Linked DNA regions of Homo sapiens: region 1 is linked to region 2. A link means that fine-mapping ties the variant in region 2 to the expression of a gene that starts in the linked region. Tissue or cell type: neural progenitor cells. Region 2 holds a variant in brackets; the other region holds the start of a gene. All regions are shown on one strand. Distances are from middle to middle.

Region 1 (8,101 bases), 270 kb after region 2:
TTTCTTTTTCTTTTCTTTTTCTTTTTTTTTTTTTTTTTTTTTTTTTTTTTTGAGACGGAGTCTCGCTCTGTCGCCTAGACTGTAGTGCAGTGGCGCGATCCCGGCTCACTGCAAGCTCCGCCTCCCGGGTTCACGCCATTCTTCTGCCTCAGCCTCCGGAGTAGCTGGGACTACAAGCGCCCGCCACCACACCCGGCTAATTTTTTGTATTTTTAGTAGAGACGGGGTTTCACGTGTTAGCCAGGATGGTCTCGATCTCCTGACCTCGTGATCCACCCGCCTCAGCCTCCCAAAGTGCTGGGATTACAGGCGTGAGCCATCGCGCCCGGCGGCTAATTTTTTTTTTTTTTTTTTTGTATTTTTAGTAGAGACGGGGTTTCACCGTGTTAGCCAGGATGGTCTCGATCTCCTGACCTCGTGATCTGCCTGCCTCGGTCTCCCAAAGTGCTGGGATTACAGGCGTGAGCCACCGCGCCCGGCCAATATTTTATTTCTTGTAGAGACGGGGTCTCACTATGTTGACCAGGCCAGTCTCAAACTCGTGGTCTCAAGCAGTCCTCCCACCTCAGGCTCCCAAAGTGTTAGGATTACAGGCGTGAGCCACCGCCCCTGGCAATACTATACAATTTTATAAGGGACTTGAGCATCCTTGGATCTTGGTATCTGCAGGGGTCCTGGAACCAGTCCCCAGTGTTACTGAGGGATGACTGTATATACCTTTGCATATAATATATATACACATAGACATACAAATAGTTTCATGTTAGTTGTTTAAGAACTTAATAGAAGAGAACTATGTGCCTTTAGTAAAATAGATCAGTTTAGTTCTAACTGTTTAAGAACTTTGAACAATCTGTACTGTGCAATGTACTCTGAATTCCCTGGGTCATTAATGACTGATATGGTTTGGATCTGTGTCCCTGCTTAAATCTCATGTTGAATTGTAATCCCCAATATTGGAGGCGGGGCCTGGTGGGAGGTGATTGGGTCACAGGGGCAGATTTCTCCCTTGCTGTTCTCGTGATAGTGAGTTCCCACAAAATCTGGTTATTTGCAAGTGTGCGCCTCTTCCCCACTGCCTCTCTTGCCCCTTTTCCTGCCGTGGAACAGATGCCTGCATCCCCTTCGCCTCCTGTCATGATTGTAAGTTTCCTGAGGCCTTCCCAGCCATACTCCCTGTACAGCCTGTGGAACTGTGAGTCAATTAAACCTCTTTTCTTGGGGCCGGGTGTGATCGCACCCGCCTGTAAACCTAGCACTTTGGCAGGCCAAGGCGGGCGGATCACCTGAGGTCAGCATCTCGAGACCATCCTGGCCAACATGGTGAAACCCCGGCTCTACTAAAAATACAAAACCTTAGCCGGGCATGGTGGTGCATGCCTGTAATCCCAGCTACTTGGGAGACTGAGGCAGGAGAATTGCTTGAATCCAGGAGGCAGAGGTTATGGAGAGCCAAGATCGTGCCATTGCACTCCAATCTGGGCAACGGGACAAGACTCTGCCTCAAATAAATAAATAAATAAACAAACAAACCTGTTTTCTTTTTCTTTCTTTCTTTTTTTTTTAGATGGAGGTTTTGCTTTTGTCGCCCAGGCTGGAGTGCAGTGGTGTGATCTCGGCTCACTGCAACCTCTGCCTCCCGGGTTCAAGTGATTCTCCTGCTTCAGCCTCCCGAGTAGCTGGGACTACAGGCGCCTGCCACCACACCCGGCTAATTGTTGTATGTTTAGTAGAGACGGGGTTTCACCATGTTGAGCAGGATGGTCTCGATCTCCTGACCTCGTGATCTGCCCACCTCAGCCTCCCAAAGTGCTGGGATTACAGGTGTGAACCACTGCACCCAGCCTCTCCTGGAATTTTCTAAGTGGCTCTAAGATGTATTATATTTAGCCCCATTTTACAGGTAGGAGGAGCTGAGGCTCTAAGATGGCAAATTACATCAGAGGGGACCATCATCAATAAATATATTGGATTTTTTTTTTCATCAGAGGTACCACACTGGAAAATACCAAACATTTTTGGTTTTTAGATGGAGTTTCGCTCTCTTTTTTTTTTTTTTTTTTTTTTTTTTGAGACGGAGTCTCGCTCTGTCACCCTGGCTGGAGTGCAGTGGCGCGATCTCAGCTCACTGCAAGCTCCGCCTGCCGGGTTCACGCCATTCTCCTGCCTCGGCCTCCCAAAGTGCTGGGATTAACAGGCGTGAGCCACCGCGCCCGGCCGGAGTTTCGCTCTTGTTGCCTAGGCTGGAGTGCAATGGCGCGATCTCGGCTCACTGTAACCTCCGCCTCCCAGGAAAATAACCAAACTTTTTAATTGTACCATTGAAATGCCAGAATCCCTCTAGGGAGGGGGAGGAGACCAGCGGTCAGAATGCCTGGGTCCTAGCAACAGACCTTGCAGCCCCATCTTCTCCGGTTCCTCCAGGGCTAGGCTGAAGATCAGCATGTGTCGGGCCACAGCTTCCAGATTATTCTCCAGCACAAAGAACTAGAAGGATGGACAGGGCAGAATAATTCTGAGACCTGTTTGCCTGGGTCCTAGGAGACCCAGGAGAGCAGGCCCTCAGCTCTCTCCTTCCACACACCCGAGTTCTGTACACCAGCCTCTTCCTTCAAACACAGAAGTCTGTGTCCCCAGAGCTCTCTTCCCTTCCATTACTCAGAAGACCTCATCCTCGAGCTCTTCCCCACTATAGAACCCAGGAGTTCCAAACCCCAGCCCCTTCCTTCCCCCAAGACGCATCGGTTCGCTCCCAGCTTCTGCCTCCCTCAGATCTAGGAGTCTCCAGCCCCTTCATTCCTGGACCTGAGGTTTTAGAATTTCAATCCCTTCCTCCCTCAAGGACTCGGGAATCTGGGCTCTCATCTTCATCCCAGCTCACGTTGAACCTCCTGCGAGGCCAGAACTTCGCTCGGGACAGGGTCCGCAGCAGGTGCCGTCCATCCACAGAGCCCAGAAGCAGCACATCTAGCTCGGGGTTGCTGTGCACTGTATCGGCCTGGGAGTCTGGGTCCACAGGAGGACCTGGCAAGATGACAGCTGGCTGGGGCACCATGGTGGTTGGCAGAGCGTCCACCGTAGCATCCCCTATAAAAAATGGACTACAAATCCCAGTAGGCGTTCCGCCCGTGGCCTAGGTTCTAAGGGGAGGTGTTTCCTCTGAGTATTCTGGGATTCGCAGTCCGCAGACAGGACCTCGGGGCTGCCCCTGGGAGCGCGCCCTCTGCCGCTGGAGCGTTGGAGAACGTTAGCGCCCCCCTTGCCACCGACGCTGGGACTACGAGCTCTAAAAGGCCGTCTGCTCAGGCTGGGAAGGCAGACGGTGTATCAGACCTTGCGTGCTGGGACTCACTTTCAGCCTGCAGGTCCAGCGCCGGGGACAGGCCCCACCAGGACACGGAGCCGAAGCCGCTGCCGGAGCCGGCAGGTGTGGTCATCACCCTGCGGAAAAGACATTCTGGGAATCGCACACATTGCCCGCCCCGCTCCCCTCTCACCGCCCCTCACTTCTCGCCCCTTTGCCTCCACATGATACCTTGCCCACACCTTTATCCTCCAAATATCCCGGGACGCCCCTTCCTCTCTGCTCAGTGCAGCACTGTGGACCCGCGGCACTCCACAACCGCTGCCCAGAGTCCCCGCCCTTTTCGAGGAATCAAGCAATGGAAGCATGTGGGATGGGACCACAGCGAGCAACTGACCAATGAGAGTGAGCGAGGCCCGCCCTCTACAAACTTTTGGCCAATGGGAGCACTGAGGGCCAGCCTTCCCCCACACCTAGGAGAAGAGGGCGTGTGGACGCGGTTGTCATGACGACGGCGCCGGCGGGGGAAGGGGCGGTGCTAGAACAGGTTGGGGCGGAGTCAGGGTCGGTCCAAATTTCTGGAATGGGGGAGGCCTGGGCTGATTAAAATTGAGAGTGAAGGGAGCTTAATCTTATTTCTTGTTTTTTGTTTTTTTGTTTTCTTCATATGCCTTTGCTCATACGTAACGGAATTTTCATCAATTCAAATAAAGTGAAGTGTCTAGACTTTAGATGGCAGGCTTCTGAGCCCGCTCCCCGCCCCAGCACAACGTGGGCTCTACCACACAGAACAGCCCACAGGTGGGACACTGATGTGCAGGTCATTAAAAATTCAGGGATTTGTGAGCTGGTTATTGTTACACGAAGCCATAATTTAAACTTACAGCTAGATCCTTTTGTAGTTTCTAAGCGGGATGATTGGGTGTTCACGCGCATGCGTGAGATGTGCCTCCCTCAAACCTTGTTACGACATCGGCACATTACTCTTCTGACATGAACAAAAAAATTACAGGTAAATTCTGTAATCGTACAGTTAAATCAACTGCATTAAAATAAGGGTAAGTCGGCCGGGCGCTGTGGCCACGCCTGTGATCCCAACACTTTGGGAGGTCAAGGTGGGCAGATAACTTGAGGTCAGAAGTTGGAGACCAGTCTGGCCAACATGGTGAAACCGCGCCTCGACCTTAAAAAATACAAAAATTAACCGGGCGTGGTGGCACGCACCTGTAATCCCAGCTACTCCGGAGGCTGAGGCAGGAGAGTCTGTTGAACCTGGGAGGCAGAGGTTGCAGTGAACTGAGATCGCGCCTCTGAACTCCAGCCTGGGCGACAGAGCAAGACTCTGTCTCAAAAAAAAAAAAAAGAAAAACCAAAGTCTGAATGAGGCACATCTCTAGATCACCCCAGCACCCAGCACTGGGCTCAGCGCCCAAGGGGACTTGGCTCTCTGCCTCCTCTCCTTGCCCAGACACATGAGCTTAGACCAGTCACCCTTTCTGAGCCTCAGTCTGCTGCTCTGTGAAATGGGAATGTAGCGTGCAGCGGGCAGAGGTGCAGCGGATCTGCCTCCTGAGGGCAGATCTGGGCACTGGGAAGACAATACCTACTGGGGAAACGAAGGTTGAGACCTCAGACATTCCTGCAGAATCAGGCTGGCTAACCAGCCCCTTCCAGGCCAGCTCTAAGCCTGCAAGAGCCCCAGATCCTGGGTTTCTCTCTGGAGAATTAATGCCTTTCCTCCCTATTTCTCCCACTCTCCCAACAAATTCTCAGCAAAGGAACCAGAGTGACATTTTTTTTTTTTGAGATGGAGTCTTGCTGTGACACCCAGGCTGGAGTGCAGTGGCGCGATCTCGGCTCACTGAAACCTCCGCCTCCCGGGTTCAAGCGATTCTCCTGTCCCAGCCTCCCAGGTAGCTGGGACTACAGGCATTTGCCACCACACCAGCTAATTTTTGTATTTGTATTTTATTTTGTGTATATATATATATATACACACACAAAATAAAATACAAATATATGTATATATATTTATATATACACAAAATAAAATACAAATATTTTGTATATATATACAAAATAAAATACAAATATACATATATATACATATATATATATATATATATAGAGAGAGAGAGAGAGAGAGAGAGAGAGAGAGAGTTTCACTCTTGTTGCCCAGGCTGGAGTGCAATGGCGCGATCTCGGCTCACCGCAACCTCCGCCTCCCGGGTTCAAGCCATTCTTCTGCCTCAGCCTCCCGAGTAGCTGGGATTACAGGCAGGCGCCAGGACGCCCGGCTAATTTTGTATTTTTTGTAGAGACAGGGTTTCTCCGTGTTGGTCAGGCTGGTCTCCAACTCACGACCTCAGGTGATCTGCCCGCCTTGGTCTCTCAAAGTGTTGGGATTACAGGTGTGAACCACCGAGCCAGGCGATTTATTTATTTATTATTTTTTTTTTAGAGACGGAGTCTTGCTCTGTCGCCCAGGCTGGAGTGCAGTGGCACGATCTTGGCTCACTGCAACCTCCGCTTCCCGGGTTCTAGCAATTCTCCTGCCTCAGCCTCCCAAGTAGCTGGGATTACAGGCGCACGCTGCCACGCCCAGCTAATTTTTTGTATTTTAGTAGAGACGAGGTTTCACCGTGTTGCCCAGGCTGGTCTCGAATTCCTGAGCTCAGGCAATCCACCTGCCTTGGCCTCCCAAAGCGCTAGGATTACAGGCGTGAGCCACCGTGCCCAGCTCCAGCGATTCTTTTTTATTTTTAGTAGAGACGGGGTTTCACCATGTTAGCCAGGCTGGTCTCGAACTCCTGACTTCAAGAGTTCCGCCGGCCTCAGCCTCCCAAAGTGCTGGAATTACCGGTGTGAGCCACTGCACCTGGCCCAGAGTGATCTTAAACATAAATCAAATAATGTCTCCCACCTCTTCAAATCCTCCAAAGTCTTCCCGCTGCACCTGGACACATTCCCCGCTCCTTAGCTTGGCTCCCTATGCCCTATGCAATCTGCAGTCATCCACCCCTGAAGCCACATCAGCCTCCTGGCTCCTTGGAGAACACACCAAGCCGTTTGAACCCCAGGGCCTTTGCAACTTGGGATTCTTTTGCCTTAAATTATCTTCCCCCTCATCTTTGTTTTCTATATATTTATTTTTGAGACAAAGTCTTGCTCTGTTATCCAGACTTGAGTTCAGTGGTGTGATCATAGCTCACTGCAGCCTCAACCTCTCAGGCTCAAGCAGTCCTCCCACCTCAGTCCCCTGAGTAGCTGGGACCACAGGCAAGTGCCGCCATGCCCGGATATTTATTTATTTATTTATGTAGAGAAAGGGTCTCACTAGTTGCCCAGGCTGTTATTTATTTACTTATTTGAGATGGAGTTTCACTCTTGTTGCCCAGGTTGGAGTGCAATGGCGCTATCTCGGCTCACTGCAACGTCCACCTGCCGGGTTCAAGCCATTCTCCTGCCTCAGCCTCCTGAGTAGCTGGGACTACAGGCATGTGCCATCACGCCCAGCTAATTTTGTATTTTTAGTAGAGACAGGGTTTCTCCGTGTTGGTCAGGCTGGTCTCAAACTCCCGACCTCAAGTGATCCGCCGGCCTTGGCCTCCCAAAATTCTGAGATTACAGGCGTGAGCCACTGCGCCCGGCTGTATTTATTTATTTATTTATTTAAGGCAGGGACTTGCTCTGTTGCCTAGGCTGGAGTACTCCAGCCTGAAACTCCTGGGCTCAATCGATCCTCCCACCTCTGCTCCCCAAGTAGCTAGAACTATAGCCACGTGCCAGCATACCTAGCTAACTTTACAAATTTTAAAAATAGAGAGGTTATCCAGGCTGGTGTCTAACCCTGGGCCCCAAGCAATCCTCCTGCCTCCCAAAGTGCTAGGATTAAGGCATGAGCCATCGTGCTTGGCCTTGTTTTCTTTTTAAATTGGTGTAAAACACACACACTATTAAGTTGATTGGGAATGACATTTAGTACACTTGCAATGCTGTGCAACCATCACCACTGTCTAATTCCAGAACTTTCTCATCACTCCAAAAGAAAACACGTACCCCATTTATCTCCCCATTTCTCTCTCCTCTGTCCCTGGCAACCACGAATCTACTTTCTGTCTCTATGTATTTGTCAGTGCAGGAGATTTCTTTTGGATGGAATACTGCACTATGCAGCCTTCTGTATCCGGCTTCCTTCACTTGGCATAATATTTTCAGGACTCATCTATGCTGAAGCATGAATCAATGCTTTCTTCTGTTTTTATGACCAAATAATATTCCACTGTTGTTCTCCCTAACCTTTGCAAGCTTCGTTCCTTCTTGTCATTCAAGTCATGGCCCAGACCGCACCTCCTCAGCAAGGCTGCCCCTGACCACCCTCCCTAAGTTATGTCAGCCTTTTTACGTTTTGGTCCCAGTGTGGACGGCCATTTGTAATGGTTTTATTCTTCTATCGCTCTGCTTTCTTGTTGAGACAGAGACCCAAGGACCCCATTGCCATCATCTAAATCAATCCCAGGATTTAGAGACAGGCTCTCTGGCTGTGTGATTCTGAGCATTTCACAGGAATTCTCTCTCTCTCTCTCTCTCTCTTTTTTTAGATGGAGTTTTGCTCTTGTTGTCCAGGCTGGAGTGCAATGGCGCGATCTCGACTCACTGCAACCTCCACCTCCTGGGTTCAAGCGAGTCTCCTGCCTCAGCCTCCCTAGTAGCTGGGATTACAGGTGCTTGCCACGACACCCAGTTAATTTTTGTATTTTTAGTAGAGACAGGGTTTCAGCATGTTGGCCCAGCTGG
Region 2 (8,101 bases):
AATGGCGTGAACCTGGGAGGCGGGGCTTGCAATGAGCTGAGATCACGCCACTACACTCCAGCCTGGGCCACAGAGCGAGACTCCGTCTCAAAAGTAAACAAACAAATAAATAATAAATAAATAAATAAAGGGAAAGTGCCACAATTTTGGATGAAGGGGGTTGAGGGACTTTACGTCAGGTCCAGGACTTGGATTACAGAGACACAATGGGGCTAGATTCCCAGAGATGGATAAGATTAAACTCATATAAGTCGTTTTGCTGACAGAAGGACCTTGTTTGGAAAAAGCGTTTTCAGAATAATAAAGTTCCTGAGCTCTTCAGAAAAGTATTTTATTGTCCTGTAACCACAGTAACAAGTAGCCACCAAAACTGATTTTTAACCCATCATCAATGACAACTCATCTCTGTGAAGATGCTCTTTTTTTTTTTTTTTTTTTTTGAGACGGGGTCTTGCTCTGTCACCCAGGCTGGGGAGCAGTGACGTGACCTCGGCTCCCTGCAACCTCTCTTTCCCGGGTTCAGCAATTCTCCTGCCTCAGCCTCCCCAGTAGCTGGGATTATAGGCACCTGCCACCACACGCAGATAATTTTTGTATTTTTAGTACAGACGGGTTTCGCCATGTTGGCCAAGCTGGTCACAAACTTCTGACCTCAGGGTGATCTGCCTGCCTCAGCCTCTCAAAGTGCTGGGATTACAGGAGTGAGCCACAAAGCCCGGCCACTCCATACGTTTTATATTGTTATGTTACCATCAGTCAGGCAGCTCCTTGCTTCTAAAAGTCATCCAATCAGACTCATTTCAGTAAACACCCAAGCATGAGTGACAACCAATCAAAGTAATATCTTCCCAATGACCACACTTTTCCAGATGACGTCAAGCCACAGAAGGCCCTGAAAATCCAACAATCTCTGAAGTATACATTTCCCAGGCTGAGCGCAGTGGCTCACACCTGAAATCCCAGCACTTTGGGAGGCTAAGGCAGGCAGATCACGAGGCCAGGAGTTCGAGACCAGCCTGGCCAACATGGCAAAACCCCGTCTCTACTAAAAATACAAAAATTAGCCAGGTGTGGTGGCACGCACCTGCATTACCAGCTACTGAGGAGGCTGAGGCAGGAGAATGGCTTGAACCCAGGAGGCGGAGGTTGCAGTGAGCCAAGATCGTACCACCGCACTCCAGCCTTGGTGACAGAGCAAGACTCCATCTCAACAACAACAACAAAAATGGTTGAAATAAAACTTCTATGTGTTGAACGATTCCTCTTTTAGGCATAGAGTTTCAGTTTTACAAGATGAAAATATTCTGGAGATCTGTTTCAAAACACCGTGAATACATTTAACACTGCTATACTGTACACTTACAATGGCTAAGATGGTAAATTGTATGTTATGTTTTTACTACAATTTTTTTTTTTTTTTTTCTGAGACAGAGTCTCACTCTTGTTGCCCAGGCTGGAGTGCAATGGTGCGGTCTCGGCTCACCGCAACCTCCGCCTCCTGGGCTCAAGCCATTCTCCTGCCTCAGCCTCCAGAGCAGCTGGGATTACAGGCATGCGCCACCACGCCTGGCTAATTTTATATTTTTAGAAGAGACGGGGTTTCTCCATGTTGGTCAGGCTGGTCTCGAACTCTGGACCTCAGGTGATCCACCCGCCTTGGCCTCCCAAAGTGCTGGGATCACAGGCGTGAGCCACCACGCCTGGCCTACAATTTTTTTTTAACTTTTTTTTCTGAGATGGAGTCTCGCTCTTGTCACCCAAGTTGGAGTGCAGTAGTGTGATCTCGGCTCACTGCAACCTCTGCCTCCCTGGTTCAAGGGATTCTCCTGCCTCAACCTCCCAAGTGTGGGAGATCAGTCAGAGTAGCAGAAGAAATTATAGGAATAGGAAGCAGCAAACCTTCTTGGAAGGCCAGGGAGGTTGGCATAGCTTCAGATAGTTTGGCTGAAAGCAGCCAGATTCTCTTTTCAGGAGCCAAACAGCTTAGGGCGCAGATACAAAGGAATGCGGAGTATTTTATCTAAATAGCTTGCTTAGTCATATGGTCCTAAAATCAACCTTTGATCATTCTCGGGCAAGATGGCCCTCTCCAGGGAGGTGGCGGGGGGCGGTGACCAGGTTAATTACCCACAGGTGTGTTGACTCAAAGCCTTTGTTAATTAAATCTGTGCTAAATAAATGCAAGCGTTGCCAGCTTAGAGGGGCTGCACTCTCTTTGGCTCCTAGTGCCGGCAGCCCCCTGGCCTGCTCTTTCACTGAATATTGGTGTCTGAGGACGTGTCTCATCTGTCGTACAGCTGGGATCTGCAGAACAGATCCCCCCCGCACCCAAGAAGCTGGGATTACAGGCACCCGCCGCCATGCCCAGCTCATTTTTGTATTTTTAGTAGAGACAGGGTTTCACCATGTTGGTCAGGCCGGTCTCGAACTCCCGGCCTCAGGTGATCTGCCCGCCTCAGCCTCCCAAAAGTGCTTGGATTACAGGCATGAGCCACTGCGCCTGGCCTTAGAAAACTTCTTTTTCTTTTTTTTTTTTTTTTTTTTTTGAGACAGAGTTTCACTCTGTCGCTACGCTGGTGTGATCTGGGCTCACTGCAATCTCCGCCTCCCAGGTTCAAGTGATTCCCCTGCCTCAGCCTCCCGAGTAGCTGGAACTACAGGTGCGCACCGCCACGCCCGGCTAATTTCTTGTATTTTCGTGGAGACGGGGTTTCACCATGTTGGCTAGGCTGGTCTGTTTCATGCGCGTCCGTGTGAAGAGACCACCAAACAGGCTCTGTGTGAGCAACAAGGCTGTTTATTTCACCTGGGTGCAGGCAGGCTGAGTCCGACAAGAGAGTCAGCGAAGGGGGATAGGGGTGGGGCCGTTTTATAGGATTTGGGTAGGTAAAGGAAAATTACAGTCAAAGGGGGGTTGTTCTTTGGTGGGCAGGAGTGGGGGGTCACAAGGTGCTCAGTAGGGGAGCTTTTGAGTCAGGATGAACCAGAAGAAGGAATTTCACAAGATAATGTCATCAGTTAAGGCAGGAACAGGCCATTTTCATTTCTTTCGTGGTGGAATGTCATCAGTTAAGGCAGGAACCGGCCATCTGGATGTGTACGTGCAGGTCACAGGGGATATGATGGCTTAGCTTGGGCTCAGAGGCCTGACATTCCTGTCTTCTTATATTAATAAGAAAAATAAAACGAAATAGTGGTAAAGTGTTGGGATGGCGAAAATTTTGGGGGGTGGTATGGAGAGAGAATGGGCGATGTTTCTCAGGGCTGCTTCGAGCGGGATTAGGGGCGGCGTGGGAACCTAGAGTGGGAGAGATTAAGCTGAAGGAAGATTTTGTGGTAAGGGGTGATATTGTGGGATTGTTAGAAGAAACATTTTTCATTTAGAATTACTGGTGATGGCCTGGATGCAGTTTTGTATGAATTGAAAAACTAAATGGAATAAGGAAAGGAGAAAAACAGGTATTAAAGGTCTAAGAATTGGGAGGACCTAGGACATCTAATTAGAGAGTGCCTAAGGAGGTTCAGCATAGCCTTGCCAGCAAAGATTATTTATTTACTTCAAGAGTTAAGAGTGGTGGTTTGGGGATAGCACCAGGAGATATCAGCTGTGATGGCTTGGAAAAACAGTGTAAACCAGCAGTGTAAACAAGAGCAGGGCATGTGTGAGTAGTTGAGAATGGTGAATAGGAGTATGACTAGACAGAAGATAGTAGGGATGACAAGTTTTT[G/T]GGGGCACATTCCAAGTTGGTCTGGTGTCTGGAATGAGACTGGGGCTTAATAAAAAGGAGCGTCTATACAGGAGCTCAAATGGGCTGTACCCTTTAGCATTCTGAGGACAGGCCTGAATTCTGAGAAAAGAAAGTGGTAAAAGTATTGTCCAGTCTTTTTTAAGTTGGTGGCTGAGCTTGGTGAGGTGTGTTTTTAAAAGACTATTAGTCTGTTCTACTTTTCCTGAAGACTGAGGACTGTAAGGGATATAAAGGTTTCACTGAATACCAAGAGCCTGAAAAACTGCTTGGCTGATTTGACTAATAAAGGCCGGTCTGCTATCAGACTGTATAGAGGTGGGAAGGCCAAACTGTGGAATTATGTCTGACAGAAGGGAAGAAATGACCTCGGTGGCCTTCTCAGACCCTGTGGGAAAGGCCTCTACCCATCCAGTGAAAGTGTCTACCCAGACCAAGAGGTATTTTAGTTTCCTGACTCAGGGCATGTGAGTAAAGTCAATTTGCCAGTCCTAGGCGGGGGCAAATCCCCGAGCCTGATGTGTAGGGAAGGGAGGGGACCTGAGCAATCCCTGAGGGGTAGTAGAATAGCAGATGGAACACTGAGAAGTGGTTTCCTTGAGGATAGATTTCCAGGATGGAAAGGAAATGAGAGGTTCTAAGAGATGGGCTAGCAGCTTGTAACCTACATGGAAGAGGCTATGAAATATCGACCGAATAGAATGGGCCTGTGAGGCTGGAAGGAGGTATTTTCCTTGGTCTAAGAACCATTTGCCTTGTGTGGGAAGAGATTGATGGGTGGAAGTTTCAGTGGGGGAGTAGGTGGGAGTGACTGATGAGAAGGAGAAAAACTGGCTGTGGGGGACAGAAATTGGCATGCTAGCTGCTTGTCTAGCTACCTTATCAGCATAAGCATAGATGTGAGAGACAGAAGTTGGAAAGCTAGCTGCTTGTCTAGCCACCTTGTCAGCATAGGCATTGTCTAGAGCAATGGGATCTGATGACTTTTGATGGCCTTTGCAGTGAATGACTCCAGCTTCCTCTGGGAGTAAAGCGGCCTTGAGCAGAGTTTTTATTAAGGAGGCATTAAAGATGGAGGACCCTTGTGTAGTGAGGAAACCTCTTTCAGCCCATATGACCGCATGGTGGGGCAGAATATGAAAGGCATATTTAGAGTCAGTATAAATATTGATGCATAGTCCTTTTGCATCAGTGAGGGCTTGAGTTAAGGCAACTAATTCGGCTTGCTGAGAGGTAGTGGAGGGGGCAGAGCGGTAGCCTCAATGATAGATGTGGAAGATACTATAGCATAGCCTGCCTTTGCTGGTGAGTGGCGATTAGGCCTGGTGGAACTGCCATCAATAAACTAAATGTGATTAGGGTGAGGAATAGGAAAGAAGGAAATGTGGGGAAATGGGGTGAATGTCAGGTGGATCAGAGAGATACAGTCATGGGGGTCAGGTGTGGTATCCGGAATAATGTGGGAGGCCGGATTGAAGTATGGGCCAGTAACAATGGTAATTGTGGGAGACTCAACAAAGAGTGAGTACAGCTGAAGGAGCCGGGGAGCAGAAAGTATATGCGTCAGGTGTGAGGAAGAAAATAGATTTTTGGAAGTTATGAGAACTGTAGAGAGTGAGTTGAGCATAGTTTGTGATTTTGAGGGCCTCTAAAACTATTAAAGCAGCGGCAGCCGCTGCTCACAGACGTGAGGGCTAGGCTAAAACAGTAAGATCAAGTTGTTTGGACAGAAAGGCTACAGGGTGCGGTCCTGGCTCTTGTGTAAGAGTTCTGACCACGCTAACCATGCCTAGGAAGGAAAGGAGTTGTTGTTTTGTAGAAGGTGCTGGGGTTTGAGAGATCACTAGGACACGATTGGCAGGGAGAGCACGTGTGTTTTTATGAGAATTATGCCGAGATAGGTAACAGAGGAGGAAGAAATTTGGGCTTGACTGAAGTAATGGGGGCTGTCTGTGAAGCCTTGCAGCAGTACAGCCTAGGTAATTTGCTGAGCTTGATCGGTGTCAGGGTCAGTCCAAGTGAAAGCGAAGAGAGGCTGGGATGAAGGGTGCAAAGGAACAGTAAAGAAAGCATGTTTGAGATCCAGAACAGAATAATGGGTTGTAGAGGCAGGTATTGAGGATAGGAGAGTATATGGGTTTGGCACTACGGGGTGGATAGGCAAAACAATTTGGTTGATAAGGTGCAGATCCTGAACTAATGTGTAAGCCTTGTCTGGTTTTAGGACAGGTAAAATGGGAGAATTGTAAGGGGAGTTTATAGGCTTTAAAAGGCCATGCTGTAGCAGGCTTTAATCCTTTTAAAGCATGCTGTGGGATGGGATATTGGCATTGAGCGGGGTAAGGTTGATTAGGTTTTAATGAGATGGTAAGGGGTGCATGATTGGTCACCAAGGAGGGAGTAGAGGTATCCTATACTTGTGGGTTAAGGTGGGGGGATACAAGAGGAGGACACAAAGGAGGCTTTGGATTGGGAAGAAGGGCAGCAATGAGATATAGCTGTAGTCCAGGAATAGTCAGGGAAGCAGATAATTTAGTTAAAGTGTCTCAGCCTAATAAGGGAACTGGGCAGGTGGGGATAACTAAAAAGGAGTGCTTGAAAGAGTATTGTCTAAGTTGGCACCAGAGTTGGGGAGTTTTAAGAGGTTTAGAAGCCTAGCTGTCAATACCTACAACAGTTATGGAGGCAAGAGAAACAGGCCCTTGAAAAGAAGGTAATGTGGAGTGGGTAGCCTCCATATTGATTAAGAAGGGGACGGGCTTACCTTCCACTGTGAGAGTTACCTAGACTGTCTGTGATGGTCCTGTAGGCTTCCGAGGCGATCGGGATCGGGCAGTGTCAGTCTTCAGCTGCTAAGCCGAGAAGATCTGGGAAGGAGTCAGAGAGCCTTGGGCCAGAGTTCTAGCTGCTCTGGGAGTGGCTGCCAGGTGAGTTGAACAGTCCGATTTTCAGTGGGGTCCCGCACAGATGGGATGCGGCTTAGGAGGAATCCCAGGCTGTGGACATTCCTTGGCCCAGTGGCCAGATTTCCAGTACTTGTAGCAAGCTCCTGGGGGAAGAGGTTCTGGAGGAACCCCTGGCAGCTGCGGTTCAGGCGTTTGGAGTTCTCGTGTGCTGGAGATGTGGCTGGGGTTTGTCTCATCTGGATACTGGAGTGGAGGCAAGGAATTGCAACTCAGAAATATGTTGCTATTTGGCTGCCTCTACTCTATTACTGTACACCTTGAAGGCGAGGTTAATTAAGTCTTGTTGTGGGGTTTGAGGGACAGAATTTAATTTTTGGAGCTTTATTTAATGTTGGGAGCAGATTTGGTAATAAAATGTATATTGAGAATAAGACGGCCTTTTGACTTAGGGTCTAGGGCTGTAAAGCGTCTCAGGGTTGCTGCCAAATGAGCCATGAACTGGGCTGTGTTTTTAAATTTGATGAAAAAGAGCCTAAACACTATCTGATTTGGGAGAGGTCAGATAAAGAAAAAGGAGCATTAACCTTGACTATGCCTTTAGCTTCAGCCACCTTTTTAAGAGGAAATTGCTGGGCAGTTGGGGGAGGGCTAGTCATGGAATGGAACTGTAAGCTGGACCGGGTGTGAGGAGGGGAGGTGATAAAAGGATTATAGGGTGGAGGAGCGGAGGCTGAGGAAGAATTGGGACCCAGCTCGGCCTGGCGAGGAGGGGAGATGTCAGATGGGTCTGTAGAAAAGGAAGATTAGAAAGACTCAGCGATGCTTGGGGTTGGGACTGACGGGACAGGCGGGAGGGAAAGAAGGAAGATTTGGGACGAGTTGCACTGGGCATAGAGACTAGGGAGGGACCGATGTGTAAAAGAATGCCTGGATGTCAGGCACCTCAGACCGTTTGCCCATTTTACAACAAGAATTATTTAGATCTTGTAGGATGGAAAAATTGAAAGTGCCGTTTTCTGGCTATTTGGAACCACTGTCAAGTTTGTATTGGGGTCAAGCAGCATTGCAGAAGAAAATAAGGCATTTAGGTTTTAGGTCAGGTGTGAGTTGAAGAGGTTTTAGGTTTTTAAGAACACAGGCTAAGGGAGAAGAAGGAGGAATGGAGGGTGGAAGGTTGCCCATACTGAAGGAGGCAAGCACAGAGAAAAGAGAGAGTAGAGACATGGAGGGAAGGGGTTCAGGGGTTCTTACCTTCCAGAAAAGCGGGAAAGGGGTCAGGGCACAGAAGTAAGGGATTGGGGTGCAGAGACAAGAGGTCGGGGTGTGGAAATAAGGGATCGGGGTGCAGAGATAAGACGTCAGGGCACAGAAATAAGGGATCGGGGGATTCTTGCCCCCTAGAAAAGCGGTACTTGCCACTAAGGGTGAAGGAGAAGGGGTTGGGGGGTT

Direction of the effects. Positions count from the first base shown, and alleles are read on the strand shown. Sizes are in standard deviations (SD) of each study's normalised expression.
With allele G in place of T in region 2, the expression in neural progenitor cells of the gene that starts at base 3,637 in region 1 is higher (large effect, 0.82 SD a copy in Aygun 2021).

The links. PIP is the estimated chance that this variant, and not a neighbour inherited with it, causes the effect.
Region 1: it holds the start of DNAAF3, and the variant in region 2 is fine-mapped to the expression of DNAAF3 in neural progenitor cells (Aygun 2021, PIP 0.95).

Annotation. Positions count from the first base shown.
Region 1 is chr19:55,162,977-55,171,077 of GRCh38, forward strand. It overlaps DNAAF3 (dynein axonemal assembly factor 3), which reads right to left and starts at 3,637. Exons shown (of 12, transcript NM_001256715.2): 1 at 3,547-3,637; 2 at 3,353-3,441; 3 at 2,882-3,024; 4 at 2,394-2,487. The coding sequence starts at 3,437. It overlaps DNAAF3-AS1 (DNAAF3 antisense RNA 1), which reads left to right. Exons shown (of 4, transcript XR_007067345.1): 3 at 1,568-1,824; 4 at 2,843-3,928. It overlaps LOC124904795 (small nucleolar RNA U13), which reads left to right and starts at 4,195; the gene lies at 4,195-4,298. RefSeq lists a silencer at 3,017-3,248.
Region 2 is chr19:54,891,558-54,899,658 of GRCh38, forward strand. It overlaps a transcript of NCR1 not described here. Among named protein-coding and RNA genes, the nearest start is that of NCR1, 11 kb to the right of the region's middle. RefSeq lists enhancers at 1,082-1,832, 1,833-2,585. The variant G/T (reference allele first, on the strand shown) is at 3,729.